Regions from separate parts of the Homo sapiens genome. Here all the other regions are linked to region 1. Evidence: fine-mapped expression QTL. A gene starts in region 1. Each other region holds a variant in brackets. All regions are shown on one strand. Distances are from middle to middle.

Region 1 (8,186 bases):
TAGCTTTAGGATGATTAACAATCTAGTTTCTGAACTTGCAAAGTTGATATCCAAACTGAACCAAACTGGCAATATATTAAAGTACTGCCCTCCTGAGGCCCTATGTGAGCAGTGAGTTAAAGGATTCTTCTTGGACAGCTAGGCTTTTATTAACATCTATGTGTTGGTGATTTATTCTTAATCTGAAACATACACAAATATTATATGCTTGAATGAGGATTCTACACACTTAAAATGAACTTTCTCAACAGAGTATACCTTTTGGACCATGGCATATTAATAATCCTTTTCTTTAAAAAAAAGGAAAGTAAAATTTCCACTGGAAGAAATATGATTGATAACCACTGAATCCAGTGCAAAGTACCAATCTTTTCTGGGTCGTCAGATCTCAGAATAATAATGTGGTCTTCCCAGAAAATGCACAAATACACATATATTTTTAGGAAGTTGTTCATGGACCTCTTAAAACATATCCATAGATTCTAGGTTAAAAACTAAAGATAGCCACCTACTTTTAAATATTTTTTCCATCGATGGTTCCAATGCTGCCTCTTTGAGTTCTTGGCCAGTTCTCCCACGCCGGATCCCAATTCTTGTTTTGGTGGCATATTCCTGACACACATGCAAACAAAGACACGTACCACCCACATGAAAACAGAACGTTAATAAAATAAAATGCAAGATCCCTTTACACTAGAAAACTCTAGTTAAAGAAACTTGGTACTTTCTATATACCTAACTTCACTATGGAAATTTATTAGCCAACTTAAAAAACTAAATGTAAAAATAAATAAATAAATGTAGACCTTCCCTGTGCTCCACCTTTGGAAGTTAGTAATTCATTATATTATTCTTAGTTTCAATTTCAGAAAAATTGTTTCTTTCACAAACTATAGATTTACATACCTAGAATTGTTATATTTTAAATCCTAACCAAATACCAGGGTGAGAATCTGTTAGCATTTTTAAGATATGCATTCTACAAGCATTATTAGCTATATTTTGTCATCTGGGATATGGACTCAAGAACAGCATCTTTCCTTAACATGAAGCCAAGAAGAGGGAAGACTACTACTTCCATTGTGGCTCTTTTTCAACAGTGGAACAGTTAATTTAAAAGAGAAAATGTCTCCTAGCTTCTTTATATTGTCCTCATTACCTCACACTTCAAACCTTATAATCTGAATGCCAGAAGATAAATCTATTATAAAAATGGGTTTCTTTCTAACCTGACAGATATTATCAACCTCTAAATAAGAGATAATATATTTAGTAATTTATTAATAAGCTATTGGCCAACTGGTAATATCCCTGGGTTCTTAAACTTCTGACTATGTGCTCCAGGATCTCCGTTACACTATGTAACTCTCAATCCCTCACAATGTACTCTAAATTTTCTAAATGAGAAACTCCAGAAGCTGTAAGCGAAGACAGAGTTACAGAAACTCATTTTCTATTTCATATGGGATAAGGAGGGACCAGAATGATACAAACTAATGGGGAGAAAGAGCTGATTGGGGATATTATCAGGGCTAACTGACGTATAACACACTAAAGGCAGAGCAGCCATACTCTGCCAAAAAGAAAGGGCACAAATGGAAAAAGAAGCAATATAAAAACATTCAGATTATCTTTACCCTGCTAGGTGTTAACAGCCATTGATTCTTCGTGATGGAATTCTTCACAACAGGGGAGGCCTTGGTGAAAGCTGGGTGGAAAACCCTAGAAGGTAGTGTCCGGAGACACACCAGCCTTGCAGCCAACATGGTGGTGGTGCACCAGGTCTACCGAGCAGATCTGAAATGCTAGTTTAAAAAAAAGGCAAAACCAACCAAAAAAACATAAGTAAAACAACCTACTAACCAATTAAGAGAAGGACATATGAGAGTCAGAGTCAAGGAACAAACTATTTTTTAGTAGAACAGGAAATAAAGCGACCTTTTTAATTTTCAGCGATGAATTCTTTGCCCAACCATCCACTGTAATGCAAGAAACCCATCCCAGAGAACACAGCTGAAGATGGAGGAACAAACTAGGTTTAAGTCCCAGTTTGACCAATCAAAATAGATGACTGCAAAAATTATGTGTAACACAGAACGGCTGTTAATAACTGGACGTGATTACAGAGTCTGTGATGGTTTTTACAAATGTAGTTTTGGCTTAAGATTTATACCAGCATCCAGTGGGAAAATTTAAAAGAATCTACATAACTTTTGGGCAAAGGAATAGTGTCATCCAAAGAAGACATGAATAGCTCTTCAAGGTTATACTGCATTACAAAGCTAAAAGGTATTAAAAGAAGCCAACTATATGAATTTCAGCTAATCATACCAAATATTACTTTCCTTCAACATGAGATATAAAAATATTCTAAGTTAACCTATTCTATATGTCCTACTATAATGCGTAAAGGACATTTAGTCTTTCAAAGTAAACAAGTAAACTCAGTTACCAACCAGGTTTCCCTTACATTAGACTCCCTCGATGGTGTCTTCAAAAGAAAAGCATGCTAAAAACTGGATTATCTTAGCTCCAGGGCACATTATACTAGATGGGTGGTCAACCAGAAGTCAGCAGACAGTGTTTCTGTAATGCTAAGGTGAGGTGACTACAATAGGTCAGAATGAAATGACGAGTGTAAACCAACTGGGGCTACCAGCCCATCTCTGCCAATGATTTGTAGTGAATTCTAGGCAAGTGATATACTTCTGGGCCCATTTCCCCATCTGTAACATAAGGATTCCGTGTTCAGACTACAGCGTTGACCCTTAGACTACCTGCTTGAAAGTGCCCCGGATGCATCTTAAAATGTAGGCTCCTGGGTCTTTCTTTGCTCCTAATGATTCTACCCCTAGGAATAAGACCAAGAACGTGTGTTTTAACGAACACTCCAAAAGCTAAGAACTATTGCTTTAAGATACCCGAGCGTCCTCCGAGCTCTGCAACTGAACTATTAAGGGTCTTAAAATTCGGCACCCGGCCTTTGGGAAAACACCCAGCGCTTTTGGAACTTTCGTGCCATTACATCATCTCAACCTATGGCTGTCCTGTATCTTCCTCAGTACTCAGTCCACTGGTTGGGGCCGAAGAGGTCCAGCTCAGAGTGACCTCCATGTGGCGTAACAGCCCAGAGTGGGAATCCCGCTTCTGACAGGTTAGAAGTGACCTTGTGAGGAGTGTGGATCTCTAAGACTCAGATGTCGTTGCTATAAAATGGGGAAAATACTACCGACCCTAATCCAAGGGCTTATGCCTCCGTGAGCATTGATGAGTTTGGGTGCCTGGTCCCCGAGAAAGTTCACCCAGCCCGCTAGATTCAGATGAGAACCCGGCAGCAAACTTCCCTGTCAACCCACAACACCTCTGCCCCTGCCCCAGGTGCCGCTACCAGCGCAGCGGCTGTACGGCCTCGCCGCAAGGATGACTCAGCACCTTGTTGCCCGAGGACAGAAGCACAGCTACACTGAGCCCTTGCCCGCCTGACCAGGGCCTTGTGCCGCCGCCCTCTCCACCAGGTCACCCACAGGACTGCGACCCCAACGCGCAGGCCGGCCCTGACGCAGCCAGCAGCACCGCTGCTTCCAGCCCTTCCCCCCGCACCCAGCGGTCCCGTGAGGGCGGCTGTCAGGACCACCGGGGATCCCGGGCGCCCGCCGGCCAGCCGGAGCAGTACCTCGGTCCCCGGTCACCTTCGCCTCGCAGTTTCCCTTCCGGGCCCCTAGCGTCGGCCTCAAAGAGCACAGTTCCTCCGGCGCACTGCATGACGCAACATCGAAAGGACGTAAATAGTACGAGCAGCCAATCACGGGCAGGCCTCTGTCGGAAAAGCGGCCACACTGGGGGAGGCGGGGTTCCGGGTTGAGGAGGCGGGGTTCCAAATTGGTGGGGCGGGGCCAGTTGAGGATTGTTGCAGGGAACGTCATAGTCAGCGTCCATTTTGCGTGTGGGCATGGGAGTCGTCTCGGCCATCTTTGTTTTGGGCAGTGGAGCTCTGTTTTGCTTTTGTTTTAGTCGTTTCACTCGCCGCAGCTATAAGAATTATGTAAAAATTGAAAGAAAGTAATGTTAGAGTTAAAAATTATTCCGTTTATTCCGTTCCTTTTTGAAGGCCTTTTTGTCCCTTAATTTATCGTGAGATAAATATCTTTTCAAATGTGTCTGCTTCTGAGCCGAGTCATCCGGTTTCTGGGGTCTCATGCCAAATGTTAGATGGTGACATCCAGAAAAGATTTTTTCTAGATGGTTTTTTCATTGCTTTGTGACTTTCCCGCCCACATTTTCAAGTTTCACCCTAAACCTGTGTAATAGGCCTGATAACAGCCGCCTCTGCCTTGCACCCAGGATTGCTCTGAGGACTAAGATGTTTCCATTGCGCGTAATTTGATAGGTGAAGAGCTAGTTGTGGAATACGCGAGAGAGTTACTTTCTTTTTCACTCTCCCTCTATTTCAACAGATATTTACTGAATGCTCAACTTCGTACCAAGCTCTGTTCTAGAAATATATACAAATGAATCAGCCGGGCGTGGTGGCTCAAGCCTGTAATCCCAGTACTTTGGGAGGCCGCGGCGGGTGGATCACTTGAGGTTAGGAGTTCGAGACCAGCCTGGCCAACGTGGGGAAACCCTGTCTCTACTAAAAATACAAAAATTTGCCAGGCGTGATTGGTGCCTGTAATCTAAGCTACTTGGGAAGCTAAGGCAGGAGAATCACTTGAACCCAGGAGGCGGAGGTTCCAGTGAGCCCAGATCCCGCAACTGCACTCCAGCCTGGGCGATAGAGGGAGACTCAGTCTCAAAAAAAAAAGAAACCAAAAAAACAAAAACAAAAAAACAGCAAATGAATTAAACCCGTGTGTGCTACCACTATTTTAACAAAATAAAGTCCTTGCTCTGTGGCTTTACTTTCTGGTAGAGACAGAACATAGAAAAAATATAATGTGATAACTTAATACCATGAAGAAAGAGCAGATTAAAACCCTGAAAGGGTGATAAGGTGATTAACAACATGCAAAATTCATGAACCTTTATCTCCTAAGCAGTAGTTAATTGTGATTTATGATTCCTAATCATGTAAACCTTGACAAATATAAAGACTTGCCTTCTATGTGGATAATAAAAGAGTCTGGCAGCAACACAATTCTTATCTCTTTACGCTGAAAATGGCAGGAAAACACTAGAGAAATCTCACGAAACTGAACAGATCAAGCATGATCAGTTTAATTTTTATTTTGATCTATGCCCAATTTTATTAGCTAGCAAATAGGTTTTCTGTTTGGCTCCTTCAGTGATAGTCTTTTTTTCTAGAGCTTCTGTTATCAGCAAAGAGAAAGGATTTACAACACAGTACCAGAATAAAGATCTTGAAGTCAATGACTCAAGCTTTCTTCAAGATTCCTATTAAAGCTTATTCTCTCCATATTGGAAGAAAAATGTCTGATTTCATATTTTCCTTTCTCAAGTAAAGGGCTTGTATTGTTGTTTCCACAGGGGTCAAATATTTTGAAGCAGGGGAGGAATCTGGTCATATCATTGGGAAATATATGCTCTTGTGGCAGTGTAGGAAGGGAGAGGTTCCATGGACCAGGAGACCAATTAGGAATTTATTGTAGTTGTTCAACCAAAAGGCAATAAAGGCTGGAATTAAGCCAGTAGAAAGACACAGAGGGGTTTATGACAGAGATATATTGCTGAAGTGGAGTTTGCAGGATTGAATGGTCGGTCAAATATAGCTGATAAGAATGAGGAAGGCTCCCTGAGTAATCCTTCTGAACTGGGTGGATAATTTTATCATTAATTTAGCAATAGGATACAGGGAGAGATACAAGTGAGGGGAAGTAGATACATAAAACTTAGTTTGAAGTGTTTAATTGTTAAGTTCTCTGCTTCTAAGTTCTTAGAGTGTAGGATAGAGAAAAGGACAAGCCGGGAATGGTGGCACATGCATGTAGTCCCAGTTACTGGGGAGGTAGCCCAGGAGCTTAAGGCCGGCCTGGGCAACATAGGGTGATGCTGTCTTTAAAAATAAATAAGTAGGCTGTGTGTGGTGGCTCACGCCTGTAATCCCAGCACTTTGGGAGGCCGAGGCGGGTAGATCACAAGGTCAGGAGATTGAGACCATCCTGGCTAACATGGTGAAACCCCGTCTCTACTAAAAATACCAAAAAAAAAAAAAAAAAAAAAAAAAATTAGCAGAGCATGGCGGTGGGCACCTGTAGTCCCAGCTGCTCGGGAGGCTGAGGCAGGAGAATGGCATGAACCCAGGAGGTGGAGCTTGCAGTGAGCCGAGATCGTGCCACTGCATTCCAGCCTGGGCAACAGAGCGAGACTCCACTTCAAAAAAATAAAAAATAAAAAATAAAAGAATAAATAAGTAAATAAAAAGGAAAAGACATGATTCGTAAATTCCAATACTATATATATGTCACGGTTTTTATTACAGTCTGCTGATGAATTCCTTATTCTCCACTTGCTGGCTAAGTGAGATATGCTGCATTATAGTGGAGAAAACTCAGAGCCAGGACAAAAGATAAAATATTTTATTTACTTTCAGTTAAAATAAATGCTCTCACCTTGCCCTACTATGCTTTCCCATCAGAAGATGTGGTATGAATGAAACAGAGTTGGAAAGGGAGTTTGCTGGGGCTTTAACCTCTGCCCTCCCTGATGGAGTCTCCCAACAAAGGGAAGGTGCTTCTTCCTGAAAGGTTGCAGATGTTTCTGAATGTAGGGACCAATTGGCACCTGCTTCTCATGTGGTTGCTAAGTGGCAGACAACAGAGCAGGTAGGAAAGTTACAAGATCTTCCCCATCTTGGCCTTGTTTTCCCTTGGAATCCCTAAGGTCTAGATAAACACAAGAATGTGATTGTGAGCACGCACCTGCTTGTTTGCACCCTTCGAGATGCTGCTCAGTAGTGAGGCGACACTAGAAGTATGTGTGGGTGAGATGCCCAGATGGGCACCAACAGACCATTTAGTGTATGACAAGGCAGAGCCATTTGACTCTGCTTGGGTGAGAGATCAAACTGTGCCAACTTCAAAAGTTATATCCTGCCAGCCACAGAAAGACAATGAAGCCATGGGGACTACTCCCTTTAGATTTTGCTGAACGGCAGCTGCATGACAATGCAATGACTAAGAGGTAGAGTGGAAGGACAGAGAAGCTACACTTTTTCCCCTCCTGTTTAATGTAAATGTTTCTAATCCAGTTGTGGCCCAGGAGAGGAGAAAGGACTTTGAACTCCAATGTGACTGATGGTAATAAATCCTGAAACTGACAGACAAATTGTCAGACTGTTCTGAGCTTGCAAAATGGAATAAATAGGCTGTCTGCTCTAAACTGACTGGGGCCTTGAAAATGACATCGATGGCAGTTTAAAGAAAAATGTAGCTCAATTTTGCATTCACCTAACTGACAATATATACCCCTCACATATGTGCAACTAAATGCTGTAAGTGGGCCAAAGGACAAGGTCATTAGTGGGGTAGTATCTGTGGAGGGACAGATATTGGCAGAAAATTGAGACTAGTGTCATGCTTTCTGGTCAGTCTTCCAAGAGGAAACCAACACTCAGAAATTGTAGTAGCTTTTCTTAAGAAAAAGGTATTAGGTTGTTCTTGCACTGCTATAAAGAAATACCCGAGGCTGGGTATTTTATAAGAAAAGAGGTTTAATTGGCCCATGATTCTGCAGGCTATACAGGAAGCATAGTGGCATCTGATTCTGGGGAGGCTTCAGGAAGCTTCCAATCATGGCAGAAGGCAAAGAGGGGCAGGTACATCACATGGCAAAAGGAAGAGCAAGAGAGAGAGAGTTGGCGGGGAAGGGCCAAACACTTTTAAATGACCAGATCTCCTGAGAACTCACTATCTCAAGGACAGCACCAAGGGGATAGTGCTAATCCATTCAAGAGAAATCCACTCCCATGATCCAGTCACTTCTGTCCAGGCCCCTCCTCCAATAACGGGAATTATAGTTCAACATGAGATTTGGGTGGGGACAAATATACAAACTATATCAAAAACATAGCAAGGTAAATGGTAGATCTGGGTCTAGAACATGCGATGGAGGCAAAAGCTGGTGCTTGAGGGATTAAAAAAAATCTCTCTTTTAATATATAATGCATGGATATGCAGACAGCACATGTGCTAGTAAAGCTATGACATTAAGATGTCATGGGGGAGGGA
Region 2 (8,186 bases), 440 kb after region 1:
CATTGTCTGGGGTAAATACTGGAGGATTGTTGTCTCACACCAAGGGAATCAACGACGTGGACGCACAAGTAGTGACTTTGAAAGTGGAGGCATAATAGGCGAAAGAAAGAGAACAAAGAATAGCTCTCTCTCCTACAGAGAGAGAGGAGCTCCCAAGTGGGTCTTCCAGTTTCATGGTGGAATGCATGGGGTTTTACAGACAAGCTTGAAGAAGTAATGTCTGATTTATATAGGGCCTGAGAAATTGGTTGGACCAGTTGTGACATTTGCATAGCATGTGAAGAAGCTGGCCATCCCACCATAATCTTTTACTATGCAAATGGGATCTCTACCTTTCCTGGGCCATGTTGTCTTCCTTACTGTACACGTGGTTGACAAAGAAAAGGGAAGATGGAGCCATCAGGTTGAACATGCTGGCCCCCAGGTAGCCTTCTATGGGCACAGCTGCCAGTTTTCATCCGTACAAGCTTCCAACTATGTCTGCAGCTTGATTTTTAAGGCTGCTTTTAAACTCCATCTTTACTAAAAATACAAAAATTAGCTGGGCATGGTGGCATGTGCCTGTAATCCCAGCTACTCAGGGGGCTGAGGCAGGAGAATTGCTTGAACCCGGGAGGTGGAGGTTGCAGTGAGCTGAGATCACGCCACTGCACTCCAGCCTGGGCAACAAGAGTGAAACTCTGTCTCAAGAAAAAGAAATAATAATAATAACAAAATAATTTGGGGGCTACTTTTCACTAAAAGTAAAACCTTACCGAGGACTTTCTTACACTCATTATCTGCCTAAATAATTTCTTTTTAACTCCATTAACATCACCTTTTGGGTTTCTTTGTTCCTTGGGGACATGTAAACCTTCTTCTACCTCTAAACACCTTATTAGGTAGGGCTGGGGGAGGGGGAATACATTTAAGAGAGAAGAAAAAGACCTAATAAAAACTTACATAATTTGAATGTCATCCAAAAGATGAGCAGGATAGGTAAATAGCAGAAAAGAGCTTTATTGGTGATATTAGTTTGCAGGCTGGGAAGGGACAGTTTCCATTGTATATCAAAGGTACTCTGTCTTCAAAGAAGGGAAGGAGTTTGGGTTTTATGGCTCACAAGTTGGTATTAAATATATTTAGTTGGTTTGGGGGAAAAGCTGTACATATTTATGAGGGGAGTCGAACACAGGCACAGTGAGTAAACATGCATGTAACATATATCCTATGTTTACTTTGGAGCAGGGTTTTGCTTAAAATAGGGTGGAATTCTTTATGACACAAAGATCATTTGTGCACAGCCTCTATACGCTGCTGAAACTGGTTTAAAGTCTGCAATTGCTTATCAGAAAAGAATGTTTCTAAGGCTGGTCCTCTGTCCAGTTAGAATTGTAGTGACCTGGGTTGTAAGTCAGAGTTAGGACGGGTCTGATAATTCCTATTGTTAGGGAATTTAAAACCCTAAGAATGTAGAAATTTGCCTTGCCAGCTGGGCCCTGAACCCTCGACCTATAGGAACCTTGTTTTCTCAACCTTAGGGTCCATCTTAGTTGACAAAGGGTTATCTGTTTTGGTCTTTCAGATCATGTGATTTTGAGTTTATCAAAAAGAGAATGTTCAAAACTTAAAGGAACCAAGACAATTTTAGTCACATTTTAAACTCCACCTTCAATCAGCTAGAATGAGATCTTCAGCACAAGAAAATAAAGAAGCTCATACATGTAAAGAAGCTGTATACATCTGAATATCAGTCCAGAAATTCTGATATCATCACACCACAAATGAGTGAGTTCTCTGCAGGAGGATGTGTGCTAAAGAAATGTGCAGAGGTCAATAGTCAGCTAAAAAAGGAGAATGAGGAGATAATTCCAGGCAGATGGAAGAGTGACAGCAAGGCCCCTGAGAAAGGAGGGTGCAGGACATATCTATGGAGTAGAAAAAAGACCAGTGTGGCCCAGAGCACTGATGAGTATGTGCCTGTGGGTGTGTAGGGTGGAGGCAGGGAGGAGAAAGAGGCAGGGAGATGCAAAAATGCGTCTCAGAGAGCAGTTGTGGGTAAGCTTACATTTATAATTGTTTGTGATCAGACATTTTATGTTTTCTCATTACATTTTATTTAAAAAATGTATTTATACATTTAAATAGAGACAATTTCTAGTTTTCCGGATTTGTGAATTTTCAGCTGATTTGATATTTCAGCTGGCTTTTCCTGGAAATGTCCATAGCTTTTTGATTTTAACATTCATGCTGAACAAAGAAAATCAGGGTATGTCTTCAGGGTCTCTCTAAAGTTTGAACTAGGGAAGTGAACTACAGTTGCTGCATCCACTGCCCCTTAAGTGACTCCAAACATGTGTCCAGAAAGAATTGAAATGAGTCTTGCTGAGGCACACAGAGGACGTAAGTGTGTCTGAGAGGTTGCTTTCCCTTTCTCCCCACATCCACCAGCGAGTGGGATAAAGTGCTGCCAAACAACTTGAAAAATATTTGTTTTTCACTCACTGTCCCTTGGTGACCCTTGCAAATGCCAGGATGCTGGCAATTTTCTAATCTCCCACCATCTCTTGAATCACCAGTAATTGCTTCTGATGTGTTTCTTTCTGTCCTACAAGTACTTTCTGAACCAGCTTCCTGCATTTCAGGTGTTGGTGCCACAAGCTTCCCAAGGAGCTTCTCCAAGATTGACCAAGTCATGTTGATGAAAAGTTGGTCAAGGGTTCACCCACTCACTCTGTCTTCCCTACCTCTGCACATGGGCACACAAACACACTCTTATGTACGTGTGCTCACATGTATGCACTCAGACACACATGTACTTTTACACATGCACACATTACACATGCATGCGTGCATGCATGCATCCATATAACATACACACGCATACACACATGCTTGCATACGTATACACATATACATGAACACACTGGTAGAATGACTGCCTTGAAGAGAGCCGTAAAGGTCAGAAACCCTTGTTCCTATGACCGGACACACCGTAGGGGTCCTTTTAGCGAGGTTGCTTCAGGGAAGTCAGTGCTTCTTACCAAAGTTTGGCAATAGATTATGCCCAAACACAAGTAGCGGGGGAGAAATCCATGGAGACCAGCATAGAAAAGAGAGAGCTGAGGGATGGGAAGTAAAGGGCCAGCCTCCTGCCTACAGTGAGCTTGTCATGAATTAATGCTAAAAAGTCCAGCCATAGAAAGAAAGAAATGGTAATTTAAAGGGCCAGTCTGAAGGTGTTACAGAGAAAAACAGGCAGCAAGGAGTTAGCAAGGAATAGGCAGCTATGTAGACCTGAGGAAGCAGAGGAGCTGAGGTCTTAGGAAGGACCTAGGTAAGGTGTAAAGGACCTAGGCACTCCCCAGGCCTGTCTTAGGGGAACC[G/A]AGCATTCCTCAGGGTGATCTTAAGGTGGAGTTGACAGCTACTCTGGAAAAGAAGGGACATTAGCAGATATTGTAAAGTTGAACAGAGGGCTCACAGGATCTTAGTTGGTCTGAATCAAGTTTGACATTCTCCTTTTTTTGCTTTTCTCTACAGGGATTCTTTTAGCAAAAAGCATTCCATTCACAATACATATCCATTTACTACTCAGCCTTCTGTGGTCAATGGAGCCTCTACAGCTTATGAAATTGCAAAGACTGAGAAAACCCCCAAACTTAATGGTCTGCACAATAATTCCAGAATAAATGCCTACAAGAACTGAGAGTGTACACTAGCATTTCAGCCCAGAAGGAGGGATTTTAACCAGTCAGAGCACAACGACACAATTTTCCATTCATTTTTCAAGTTACCAGCCAGTCCCATTTCAGAGCAAGAAGTACAGTAATAAATAGCAAACCTAAACAGGTTTATCTGGAGATCTTAATAAATAAAAGTTGCCTGCTTCAAAATATATTAGTGCAGGGTTGGAGTTAGTTATGAGAGATTGTTTTTTTCATGAATTATAAGATGTGCATTAGAATCTTGAAACTGCTGAAAACAGCAAAGAATAACCGTGGCTTAGTGCTCAAATTCATCTGGATTCAAATCCCGGCTCTATCCTTTGTGAGATGTGTGACTTTGAAAAAATCATTTAATCTATTTATTCCTCAGTGTATTGATTTGTAAAGTGCATACAGTAATGATACTTATATCTCAGAATGGCTTTACAAGGGAAAGTCTATGTCCCTGGGTGAAGAGCAAGTCCTGCCTGTAGAGAGAGCTCATTCAAGGAATCTGGGTCCTGGCGAAAAGGCATGTCCTTACAACCAGAAGTGGGATTTGAAGGGGAGGCTCTAGGGTGAATTGGACATCAGGATTGGAATGTTCTTTTGGCTATGAGGGAAGTCAGAATGCTAGGAAAACAACCTCATGTGTTAGCTGGGTGTCCGCACATGCAAGTTAGGCTGGAAGCTGGAGGGAAAGAACACAGGAAGTACAGGTGATTCTGGGGGTCAATATTTACATTTTAAGAGACAGAATAAATTAACCACGACTGTGAGCCTCGGGTAGAAGCAAGATGAGACAATACCGAGGGGCTTTGTGTGATGAACCAGAGGGTTGGAGCACCTTGTCCCTTCTCCTTTATTGATCACCTCCAGAATTCAAGAAAGCCTTGTGAAAACAACAGGTCATCTCATCTATGCTAACGAGTTCCCAAGTCCCTGAGTCAGAGCTCTGGAGACAAAGCAGCGTATTCAGGAAGCAAAGGGTGGTGGGGAGCCTTACTTTGTAGGAAGAGACCCTTCCTCACAAGCAGAAGGTAAGAACCATAAAGATGGACAAAGATCATCCCTCACTTCTTCCCCAGAGATTCTCTTTCTAGGCTTCGACATGGACGTTCTGAAGTTTATTCACCGGAAAACATTTACACAGAGCAGAAAATCAGGAAGTTTCTAATGAGGGCCTTCATCTGCAAATCACACTGCATGCCTCCATTGAATCAACTCTGTTATTGTCCTTCAATTCTAGGATGCTCTTTAGAAAACCAAAACAAAATTAAAACCAAAACCAACCTTCCACCCACAACAAAACCTTTCTTCCAAAATGGGAGTTGGGGCGGCCTCTTTTCTGTTGCTCTAGATCATGCAAATACTTCTAATGGTAGACTGATTAGGCAGTCCTCAAACAACTCTTGATAAGGGTGATTTAAACAACTCAATCAAGTAACTTGTTCCGAACTGGCATTTTTCACAATTAATCCGAACTGAATTTGCCAGGCCAACAAATAATGATTCCCAGCTCCAATTGAAAGATGTCATATTACCTCCAGTCTATTCCTCAGAAATGTTAAACTGTTTCATTATTCTCATTTTTTTTTCACTTTCTTCTTTCTTGATTCTCAGATAATTGTTGAATCAGAGGAGTCTTAATTTCAGGAGATCCCAAGTCTCCCCAAACCACCTGCCCATGAAAAATAAAATCTAGGGATTTCCAGTTGTTTTATTAGGGGGTTAAAACACCATGGGCAAGTATTGGGAAAAACCAGTAACTACCAGAACTATCTAATGATCAACGTGAGTTGTAAAAGACATGTATTTAGGCACCCAATGCTTTGAGAAACCTTAGTAAGTATTCTAAGGAATCTGGGCTGAGATAAACTAGCTGAGGAGTGATGCTCTTCAGAAAACCAAACCAAAATTAAGAAATGGGGGAAAGGCTGAGGTGAGGGAAGAGAGAAGAAATTGAGAACAAACCATAGAACATTCTGCCCTAGGAGAGAATTTAGGCTGAAGGATGCATGACAGAAGCAAAGCCACTCGGGTATATTTATCATCCCACAGCTAAGGACTGGGCAGGGGCAGCCTTTGGGGTAGCAAGAATATAGCCGTGGCCTATGAAGTGGTCACTCTCCCCTGTCCAAGAAATTCTCCAAAAGGGACAGTTTACAAAGCTTTTGGCAGATGCTAAATCATCTGTGATGGGATGATGCTGGGAACTGTGGTCAAAAGATTCTGAGATTTGGAGCCCAAACCAGTGTTAGCTCTGCCCCTTCTCCTTGGATTCATTCATGGCTATGAATGCAGTCAAAATAGAGATTCCTCCTCTCGCATAGAAAAGAGGCTCAGAAAGCCATGAGGCCTGGACAGGGACACAGAGTGGCACAGAGGAAGGGCACCATGGGCTCTGACGCAGGCCAGTGCTCCCTCTGCAGTAGATGCACTGATGTGATGATGCTTCACTCCTCCTGCTGTCTGGGAAAGCCCTGGTGCCTGAGTACCTTTCCTGCACACAGAGCTAGCACTGCAGATGTTCTTATGCACCCATGCCTGGCCCATGCATTCCTTGTTGGGGCTTGGACACATTTGCTTTCCATGATCTCAGCCGACCATGAACTGAGCTGTTCTATTTGTTGTTCCTGCCTACTGACCATGTTTGTCCACATGCTGTCCCTTATGCCAGGTCTCCTTTCTACTCCTCAGGTTACACTTGGTTGTGTGGTTCTCTGACAGCCTTTGCCTAGACCTCAGGGTTGAAAACTTGGCAGGTGCCTCATAGTCTGAAGAATGATTAAAAAAACAGTTCACATTGTGCTCTCAAACTCTGAGCACTGGAATCAGACTGCCTGTGTTAGGTCCTAGTTCTGACACGTGAGACTCTGCAACTTAACTTTCCTGAATTGCAGTTTGCTCATCAATAAGATAAGATGATAATAATGATGCCTTTCCTTATAGTTGTACTAATTATAAATACAGCACCATGCTTGGCACACATTAAGTGAAAAAATGCTCACTGACTTATATTAAGGTTACTATTATTTATGACAGGTTCCACCTCTTTTCCTGCTTAAACTAAACTACAGAAATTAAGATCTCAAAACACTTGCAGATGCCATGTGGCCCAGGATCCATCTATAATCTTCTGGCCAACCATGTGTTTCCCGAAAAAGATTTTCTGAGGAACATACATGTCTACATCTATTTGCATTTCCCCGGAAAAGAGCCTGAAGGGATTTACTCCACTCCTAACTATTTTGCTGAGGTCAATGTAAATTTAGCTGCATCGATTCCCCCGTGAATGTGTAATTGCTGCCTGGCAGATCGACCTCCATCACATCAGCATGGTTTGGAAGGCAAGTCTGCACATCATGTGCCCACTTCCTCCACTGCTGTCTGCAATGCCCACAAAAGTGTCTTCTGCTTCCTTCTGCCAAGGGAAGGTGGCCCAGAATGCTTGCTCTTTTGAGAATAAGAATTACTGGAAGATCTTCACAGGCAATACTAGAAAAATGACTTGGTGCTGCTTTCTCTCCCCATCTGTAGCGTAAGATGTAGTCAAGTGAAAACGTTAACAAATTGCAAGAAGATAAAAGTCAATAAGCCAAATTACAATTTTCAACATCTTGAAGGACAGTTATGAAACAAAACTAAATAACTGCCTTTGTCTCCTTTGGTCTCAGAGGGAAACTGCAAAACAGAGATGATAAGCTAGTCTTAAAGTTTTCATGTAAGAAAAAGAGATCTTTGAGATGGGGAAAAAAACTCTACTTGAACCTAAGCTATAGATTTAAAGGAGCAGATATTTTGAATCAGCATAGGTAATGCTCATGCTGAGAATACCTACCTACTTGTTTTTCAGTGTGATAATATTTCTATTTATTAGCTCTCTTTTATAACAAATAAAAATATCTCACACTACCTCAATCAGCATAAATGAGATAATTTGTTCAATAATGAAAGAGGGGTGTCTCTTGAAACCCAAGGGCAGGAATGTAGTACTAGAATTGAGGCTTGCAGTTTTTCTGTATATATATTTCTTATTTATCTCCTCTGCAGACCAAGTTTCTTCACTTCCAAGTCTGCATCATTAAAAAAAAAGAAGAGTGGCCCACACTTTCTGCATTTTAAATATCAGTATTATCTAAACACAGAGGCATGACATCTCACTTAGCCTTAAATTTCAATACTCACAGATAAGCTTCCGATTGGCCCATCTTGGTTATGAGGACTCGAAACTAAAAATAAAATCCTAAGCCCTCATCGACTGAATGGATGCCCTGTGGCCAAGGGGACCCTAGAAAAACCTGAAAACTGAGTTCCTAGCTATGACAGGATGGGAGGTCAGGCACAGCTCATTATACCTCCTCCTTTTATGGTTTAGACACAAAAACTGACCAGCGTTAATGTTAAACCAGAGATCATAAGACTGACAAAACGGACTCATTGTAGCATTAAGATACCAAAATTAGAGACAAGACCTAAGGCCATGGCAGGCGAGGGTTAAGT
Region 3 (8,186 bases), 220 kb after region 1:
TCAGAATATTTCAAATTGAGCAAAATAGCATGTGTGTTTCCTCAATTTTGAAGCTATGTACATTGAGTTTTTTGGTCAATATACCCAAGTGTTTTGACAACAGCTATGACGAAATCAAAATGCTGGCCCAAATTGACATTCCAGTGCCACTTCCTGCTACATCATTGAACACAATCCCCAGATGGACAAACCCATTAGCATTTGCTTGATATGTACATCTTTTGTGTCTTTGTTTTTAACATCCTGTCTCTTTTTCTTTTCAGTGTGTCACATTAGCAACATATATAGCTGGATGTTTTTTTTAAACCCAACCAATGAGTTAATGGAAATAAAGCCAGTCAAAAAACTGTATTATGATTTCCAAAGTTTAAACTCATTCTGCCACCTTGTTTTTTCTGTCTGTCATTTTTTCTCCTGCTCCCTTTTAACTCCCCTGACTTGATCAAGTGTTCTTTGCCTAATTTTCCCCATTTTGGAGCTGTGTCCTTCAGAATCTTTAACTCCCCGACAATCCCTCCCTAACATGATATTTTTCTTCCTTCTCTTCCTAGCCTCATATTTCATTTGAGATTACCCAGGATTTCAGTTTCATACAGTTATTTGTTAACTCTTTTTTCCCCACATTTTGGATCAATGGTTATTTATACTTAACTACAAGTTTTAGTGATTCGTTTTCATTTATTTCTTATATTTCACATAATTTTTAAAATTTGTCTTCATATTTCTAGTATATACTCAGTTCTTTCAGAGATATTCTGTGAGGAGATAACATTTATGGATCCTTGCCTGTCCAGATATATCTATGTTTTACTTCCTTCTTCAATATTAGTTTGGCTGGATATAGAATTTTAGGTTCAAAATAACTTTCCTCAGAATTTTGAAGATTTGCCTGTTTATTCCTGTTTATTACTATTTTGTTTTTGGTATAAAATTCTTCCAATGAGAAATCTAATGCCAGTCTGATTTTCATTCCACTCTGGGTGAGTTTGAAAAAATCTGTGGAATTTTTTGAGGAATTTATATTTATTTATATATGTAAATAAATACATATATTTGTATCTATATCTAAATATCTGAAATATGACCATTGTGTTCTAGGTGTGTTTTTTCTTTCTAAACTGCTTAGTCTTCGGTGAGCAACTTTAATATGAATATAATCTTTTTTCAATTACGAGAATTTTTCTTTTTATTTCTTTGATTACTTCACAGTCCCCACTTCCCCCGCCAATTCTCTCTAAATGCTATTTCTGAAACTCATAGGTATAATCTTCTGGTTTCAACCCCACATGCCCCTTATTTTCCATTTTTTTCTTGTAGTTTTTCCACATGACAAACTACTGCAAAATTTAGCGACTTAAAATGACAACAATTTATTATGACTCATGATTCTGAGGCTGCCTTGGCTGTTTCTGCTCTATGTCACCTTGGCTGGGCTGCTTCAGGCACCTGCGTTCAGCTGGGAGCTCAGCTGGGGCACCAAGTTTCCCTTTCCTGTCGCTTCTTTCTCCACACAATGTCATCCTTCAGAGCCTCTCCACGTGGTCCTTTTCTCCAACAGGGTTGCCTGAATTTCCTCACAGCAGGGGAACTGGGTTTTGAGAGAGGGCATTCCAAGAGTTGAAGCCTCTGCATTAACCCTGCTAATGTTCCATTAGCCAAAGCGAGTGACATGGCCAAGCCCAAATTGGGAGGTTATTCTGCAAGGGTATAAAAGATGAGAAGTAGGTTTTGTTTTTTGTTTTTTTTTTTGAGACTAACAATGTAATAGTCGACCAAAGTTGGGGTGCTAGTGGCTCATCTTTTGAATGAAAGATTTTTACTGTCTCCTAGGAGGCTTAATTCCTACTGGAGACACTGCCCAGCTTGTCTTAGAGCCCTCATTCTCTGGTCCAGTCTTTGGGGGCTGGGTGCTCATCTTCTTAGCTGCCCTGCCTTCAGCTTCCCAATCGATCTTCCTGTTGAGTGCTTTGCAGTTCTCTTGCTCTTCTGCTGTCTTTTGTTTCTTAGACTCACAGTATCCCAGTCTTTACCTGCTTAGTTTTAGGCACCAGTGCCCTTTTTCTTAGGTGTACCCATCTTAATCTTCTGCTTTCCTTTTCTCTCCTACTGGAGACGTGATGCTGCTCTTTGAGAAATATAAATTGGGTTTTCTGCCAGAAATGTTTACCTTTATCTCTTTTTCCCTAAAAGGTGTGTCGCTAAATCTTTGTGATTTAAATAATCACGTTTAAATTACATTTAGCAAATATTTGCTGAATGGCCCAATTAATGTGGAAGAATTTCTTGGTTGGGCTTAATGAAGTCTGTTATTGCAAGCATTAGTGATGAGAGCACCCTGGGAGGTCACCTAGACTCTTAAACATTGCTTAAATCCATCAGTGGCTTCTCATGGCACTTAGGATGAAGTCCAGCTTTCTTGGTATTTCACAACTGACCTTTTCTGGTGTATAAAGTGCTTAATTCCCAGGCCCCATCTCCTGCTCTCACTGATTTCCTTTCATTTCCCACTGATCTTTATTCAGCTCTTCAAATGCGTCACTGTCTTTCAATTCTGGCCTTCTGTACATGGAATGCTTTCTACCCGGAAGGTTCTCCTCTCTTCAGTGGCTAGTTAACTCTAACACATCCTTTAGATCCAGTGTTTCTGAAACATCAGCCACGACTCCTCCACATTGCCAATGCTGGGTTCAAATCCTCTCTGACAGGCTGTAAAATCCTCCTGTTGGAGCACTTATCATACTGCATTGTAATTGCCTATGTCTTGTCTGGCTCACCCAACTGGCTATACATTCTAGGAGGTCAGAAACTGTGCTGGGTGTCCAGCCTGTAGCACATTATTGAATACCCTGTCTATTACTGTGCCTGGCACATGGAAGACATGTGGGAACTATTTTTTGAGTGAATGATTGCATTAATGTGCTTCAAATGACTTTTACAAAATTTGGAGAAAATTTTGCATTATTAGCCTACAATTAAACATCATGAGGAACCTCTGTAATGCCTTCATATACACTAGTTTCCCCTTACCCATGGTTTTGGTTTCCACAGTTTCGGTTACTCAGGGTACAGTACAATAAGATATTGAGAGAGAGAGAGAGTGCACATTCACATAACTTTTATTACAGTGTATAGTTATAATGGTTCTACTTTATTATTAGTTATTGTTGCTACTCTCTATCTGTGCCTAATTAGTAAAATAAATGTAATCATAAGTAT[G/A]TATAGGAAAAAACATAGGGTTTGGTATTATCTGCAGCTTCAGGCATCTACTGGAAGTCTTGGAATCTACCCCCCAAAGATAAAGGGGGACTACTGTACTAGGGTTTGAAAAAAATTTCCAATTGAAACAGAGTACTGTTATTAAAAGAGTTTGAAAATCCTGGCCCGGGATCATGCTTTCATTTCACAGATACGGAATGGATTCCAGTACAGGAGTGACTTACAAAGTCTCACATCCTCATGAATAGCAGAGTTGAAGCTAAGCCATCATGCTGGCTCTTCTGTGACAGAGTCTTTTTGATGGGCTGGGTAGCATCACTGCCCCATCTGATGCCCCCTTTCCTGAGATGCAGCCTTCAATATTCAGCCCTTAGCCCTCAAGGTGGTACACACGCAACCCCCATTCCTCCCTGACCCAAGCAGGAATGAAGACTGTCTCTGAAAAAGTTCTTTTATCAGTGCTATTTTTTAGGATGCCTGATCACCAAACCTTAATGGGGCTTATCCAGAAAAAGCTCAGCACGCCTACCAATTTCATGTTAGTACTTTGAAGAAGGCTTGATCTCTCTGTAGCGGATTCCAAAGCCCTTGCTTTGAGGGTATCAGTCATCTCATGAATATCCCACCACAGATAAAGAGAGGCAGGAAGCATAGTTTTTCTCATCCTGTTTTATAGTTAAGGAAACTGAGACTAGAGGGGTGATGTGAGCTGCTCAAAATAGGACACAGACAATGAAGAGAAGAACCAGGAAAGAACAAGTACACATTAGCAATCTTCCTGGGGATTGCGCTGTTGTTAACTGATCAGCTTAACAAGTACCTGATGTTCCTCTTCACAAGAGGCAAACTACAACACAAATCAGCACAATACAAAAAAGTGCGTGTTTTTTGGAGGAGGCTGTTAAATGGGCCTTCCCCATTTTTGACATGCAGTGGGAAATATTGTTGGTGCTGTGCTGGGGTGCACCACTCAGGCCCCCTTCAGGACCAAGGCACTCAGTCCCCCAGCTTCCTTCACAGCAGCATCCTTCTCTGGGGACTCCTTTGGATGGAGGGAGCTTCCTTGTTCAAGTTTATGTCTCCTCTCTGCGGACAGCCTGCAGCCAGGACTGGTGGATGAAGGTGTACAGAGACCTGTTTCCGTGGCCTTTGTGTGGGAAAAATCCAGTTTGAGAGCTCCTTGGGAGATCAGCTGAAAGATGATGCAACTGCACAGAAATATGATTCTCCCTTTGCCCAATCCTGCTCTTTCACTTCTTTTTCTAAAATTTAATTCACTTTTTAAAATTGTACATATTTATAATGTACAGCATGTTGATATGATGTATGTATACATTTTGGAATGACTAAATCAAGCAAATCAACATGTGCACACACTTATCTTTCTTTGTAGTGGAAACATTTAAATTCTACTCCACAATTTGCAAATATACAATATGTTGTGGCCAGGCAGTATGGCATACACCTATAATCCCAGCACTCTGAGAGGCTGAGGCAGAAGGATCACTTGAGCCTAGAAGTTTGAGAACAGCTTGGGCAACACAGTGAGATCCATCTCTACAAAATATGCAGTACACTGTTATTAACTATAATCACCATGTTGTACCAAAGATCTTCTGAACTTATACTTCCCATCTAACTGAAATTTTGTATCCTTTGACCCACATCTCCCCATTCTTACCTTCCTTTTTAAGAATCCAAATATAAATGAGATTATGCAGTATTTGTCTTTCTGTGGCTGGCTTATTTCACTTGGAATACTGACTTGACCTCCAGGTTTACCCATGTTGTTGCAGATGACAGGATTTCCTTCTTTTTTAAGGCCAAATTGTAATCTGTTGTGTATAATGTTGTGTATAAATTTTCTTTACCCATTTATCCATTGATGGACACTTAGGTTGATTCTATATCTTGGCTATTGTGAATAATGCTGCAGTGAACATGGGAGTGCAGTATCTTTTCTACAAACCGATTTCATTTCCTTTGATTATATACCCAAACGTGGAATTCCTGGGTCATATGGTAGTTCTATTTTTAATATTTTGAGGGACCTCTGTACTGTGTTTTCATAATGTCTGCCTTAATTTACATTCCCACCAACCATGTGCCAATATTCTCTTTTTCCCACATCCTCTTCAACATTTGTTATCTCTTGTCTTTTTGATAATAACCATTCTAACAGGTGTGAAGCGACATCTCATTGTGGTTTTATTTTGCATTTCCTTGATGTTTAGTGATGTTGAATATTTAAAAAATATACTTGGCCATTTGTATAGAAATATCTTTTCAGGTTCTTTGCCAATTTTTAAATTGGGTTTTTTGTTTTCTTGCTATTGAGTTGTTTGAGTTCTTTACGTATTTTGGATATTAACCCCTTAGTTGAGTTCCTTATGTATTTTGGATATTAACCCCTTATCAGATGTGTGATTTACAAATATTGCCTCTGTTCTATAGATAGTCTGTTCACTCTGTTGGTTGTTTCTTTTGCTGTGCAGAAGCCTTTTCATTTTATGCAATCCCATTTGATATTTTTGCTTTTGTTACCTGTGCTTTTGGGTTCATATCCAAAAAAATCTTTGCCTAGATCAAAGTTATGAAGATTTCCCTTTGTGTTTCTCCTTTACTTCCTTATGTGAGTCATTCACCAATAAATATCCATATTAAAAATCTTTAATTCAGGGTCTATTTCCTAGGAACTCAAACCCCACAGAGGTGCCAATGAGCTGGGCATTGCCCACTCCCAAAAGGGAGTTTTTCTCTATTACCAAGTCAAGAGAAGAGGAGCTTCAAACAATCATAAAGAGGACACTGGATGTTGGAGACTGTAGAGGCTGAAACCTAACTTACAATTGGAAAAAACTTACAGGTGGGAGGCTTTCTGGGGTTGTCCCAGATGGCTGTGCAAGGAGATAGGAGTGGGAATGAGCTGCAGATGTGGCTCACTGGGAAATGAGACAGACTGTGGATATGCTGAAAGGTTCTTCACCCAAAATTCTGGCCTTGAGGGGTGAGGTGACCCCTCCCTTGTGGATTGCCTATACCAGGAGCTTAAGGCTTCATTCTACTGGTGAGCTCAAAGAGGCAATATCCATGCCAGCAATCTGCAGATGGGAGATCTCACCTCTGGCATTGAGGGTCTTTGAAGAATCTCCCAAAATGCCCCCACAGGACAAAGGAGCCAATAATTGGGTGTTTGCCATGACTAAGGGAATTAAAAAACCCAGAAAAGACCAGAGATAGCACCAGGCATAAAAGACACTTTGACTTTCTTCACTTCTCTCATTGCTCTTCTCTCTTTCCCACCCTCAGAAGAACCAGTAGCAACGTGGTCCATGGGAGGAAGAATCAAAAAGCCTGTGAGAACAGTTTAGTAGAAGGCAAAACAAACAAACAAAAACCTCAAACCTTCCAAAGACTTTCCCACCATGGACTTTCTCTCTGGTCTCTAATACAGTGGTCTGGGGCGAAAAGTTTTAAATTGGATGAGAGATTTAAGTTTTGGTATTCAAATTGATTGGCCTTTTTTGCCCCTGAACATAAGGATGCTTGCTAATTCCTGAGACTGGTTGAGAAAGTGCTGGCATCTCCCTGGGATTTTATTCAGGGACAGAGATGTATTGTTTGGCTGAGCAAGTATAGAAGAGATCAGATGAAAAGGGAAAAATTTGTTTCTTCTTGCACTGTGCTAAGTCCAGCTCATTCAATAAATAGGTTACACTTAGCTTTCTTTTTTTATTAATTTCCTGCTGAGACCTTACTGAGAGCAGAAGGCAGTGTGTAAATCTTTTGATCTGTAAAGTTTTTTATTTTTATTTTTTTTTTGAGACAAAGTCTCAACTCTGTTGCCCAGGCTGGAGTTCAGTGGTAAGATCATGGCTCACTATAGCCTCGACCTCTCTGGGCTCAGGTGATCCTCTCACTTCAGCCTCCCAAGTAGCTGGGACTACAAGCATGTGCCATCACACCCAGCTAATTTTTGTATTTTTTTGCAGAGAAAAGGACCCCCTTTGTTGCCCAGGCTGGTCTTGAACTCCTGGGCTCAAGTGATATGCCTGCTTCGCCCTCCCTAAGTGCTGGGATTACAGACATGAGCTACCACACCTGGCCTGGAAGTTTTTCTTAGAGCGGTATTTTCCCAAGTGTGTTCCATATTCTGTCCAACGTTAATGAATATTAATTGAAAAGAGTTCTCTAGGGCCAAATAATCTGGGAACCACTGGGCTAAATAAAGTTCAGTGGTGTTCTTATTGCAGGCCTTCTCAGAGCTTTTAAAACAATAACATGCACTGAGATTCTAGGATAGGCTTCTCAAGAGAAACTCATTTGATAGCTAAATCATTTATCTGGTGAGTGTCTTTTAGACCCACTATTTCTGGAAACACTTAGGAATAGATAAATTTTAGGATCATTCTGTTTCCTGTACTACTAGGTTAGAGCAGTGCTTTCTGGTAACAATTGTGTTGCGGTATAATATGTTGAGACATTGCCTTAGTCAGTTTGGCCTGCTGTAATAAAAATACCATAGACTTAAATAAAGACTATTTATGTCTCACAGTGGAGACTGGGAAGTCCAAGATCAAAGTGCTGGAAGATTCTGTGTCTGGTGAGGGCTTGCTTCATGGTTCCTAGATGGCCGTCTTCTCATGGTGGCCATGTCGTCACAGGGTAGAAACAGATCTCTGGGCCATTCATCCCTTTATAAGGAAACCAGTCCCATTATGTGGGCTCCAGCATAATGACCTAATTATCTCTCAAGGGTCCCACTTCCGTATACTATCGCATTGGGGATTAGATTTCAACATATAGACTTTGGGGGGACATAAATATTAAGTCCACAATAAATATTAACTGAGAGTTTCAGCTTTGTTTATCAGCCTAGGCACTTCATGTAGCAATTTTGAGTCTGCATTTTTTTTTTTTTTGAGATGAAGTCTTGTACTGTTGCCCAGGCTGGAGTGCAGTGGCGTGAT

Alleles and levels. Alleles are on the strand shown, and positions count from the first base shown. SD is a standard deviation of normalised expression in the study named. Not every link is listed here.
As copies of G replace A in region 2, the expression in whole blood of the gene that starts at base 3,758 in region 1 goes down (small effect, 0.37 SD a copy in TwinsUK).

The links.
Region 2: its variant is fine-mapped to the expression of GHITM in whole blood (TwinsUK, PIP 0.95).
Region 3: its variant is fine-mapped to the expression of GHITM in breast (GTEx, PIP 0.96).

The regions. Positions count from the first base shown.
Region 1 is chr10:84,135,081-84,143,266 of GRCh38, reverse strand. GHITM (growth hormone inducible transmembrane protein) reads right to left here and starts at 3,758. Exons shown (of 9, transcript NM_014394.3): 1 at 3,674-3,758; 2 at 1,638-1,805; 3 at 513-612. The coding sequence starts at 1,766. RefSeq lists a silencer at 3,478-3,677 and enhancers at 3,251-3,820, 3,821-4,390.
Region 2 is chr10:83,693,350-83,701,535 of GRCh38, reverse strand. No RefSeq gene overlaps it. Among named protein-coding and RNA genes, the nearest start is that of LINC02650, 20 kb to the right of the region's middle. RefSeq lists an enhancer at 1-154. The variant G/A (reference allele first, on the strand shown) is at 3,366.
Region 3 is chr10:83,918,680-83,926,865 of GRCh38, reverse strand. No RefSeq gene overlaps it. Among named protein-coding and RNA genes, the nearest start is that of GHITM, 220 kb to the left of the region's middle. The variant G/A (reference allele first, on the strand shown) is at 3,217.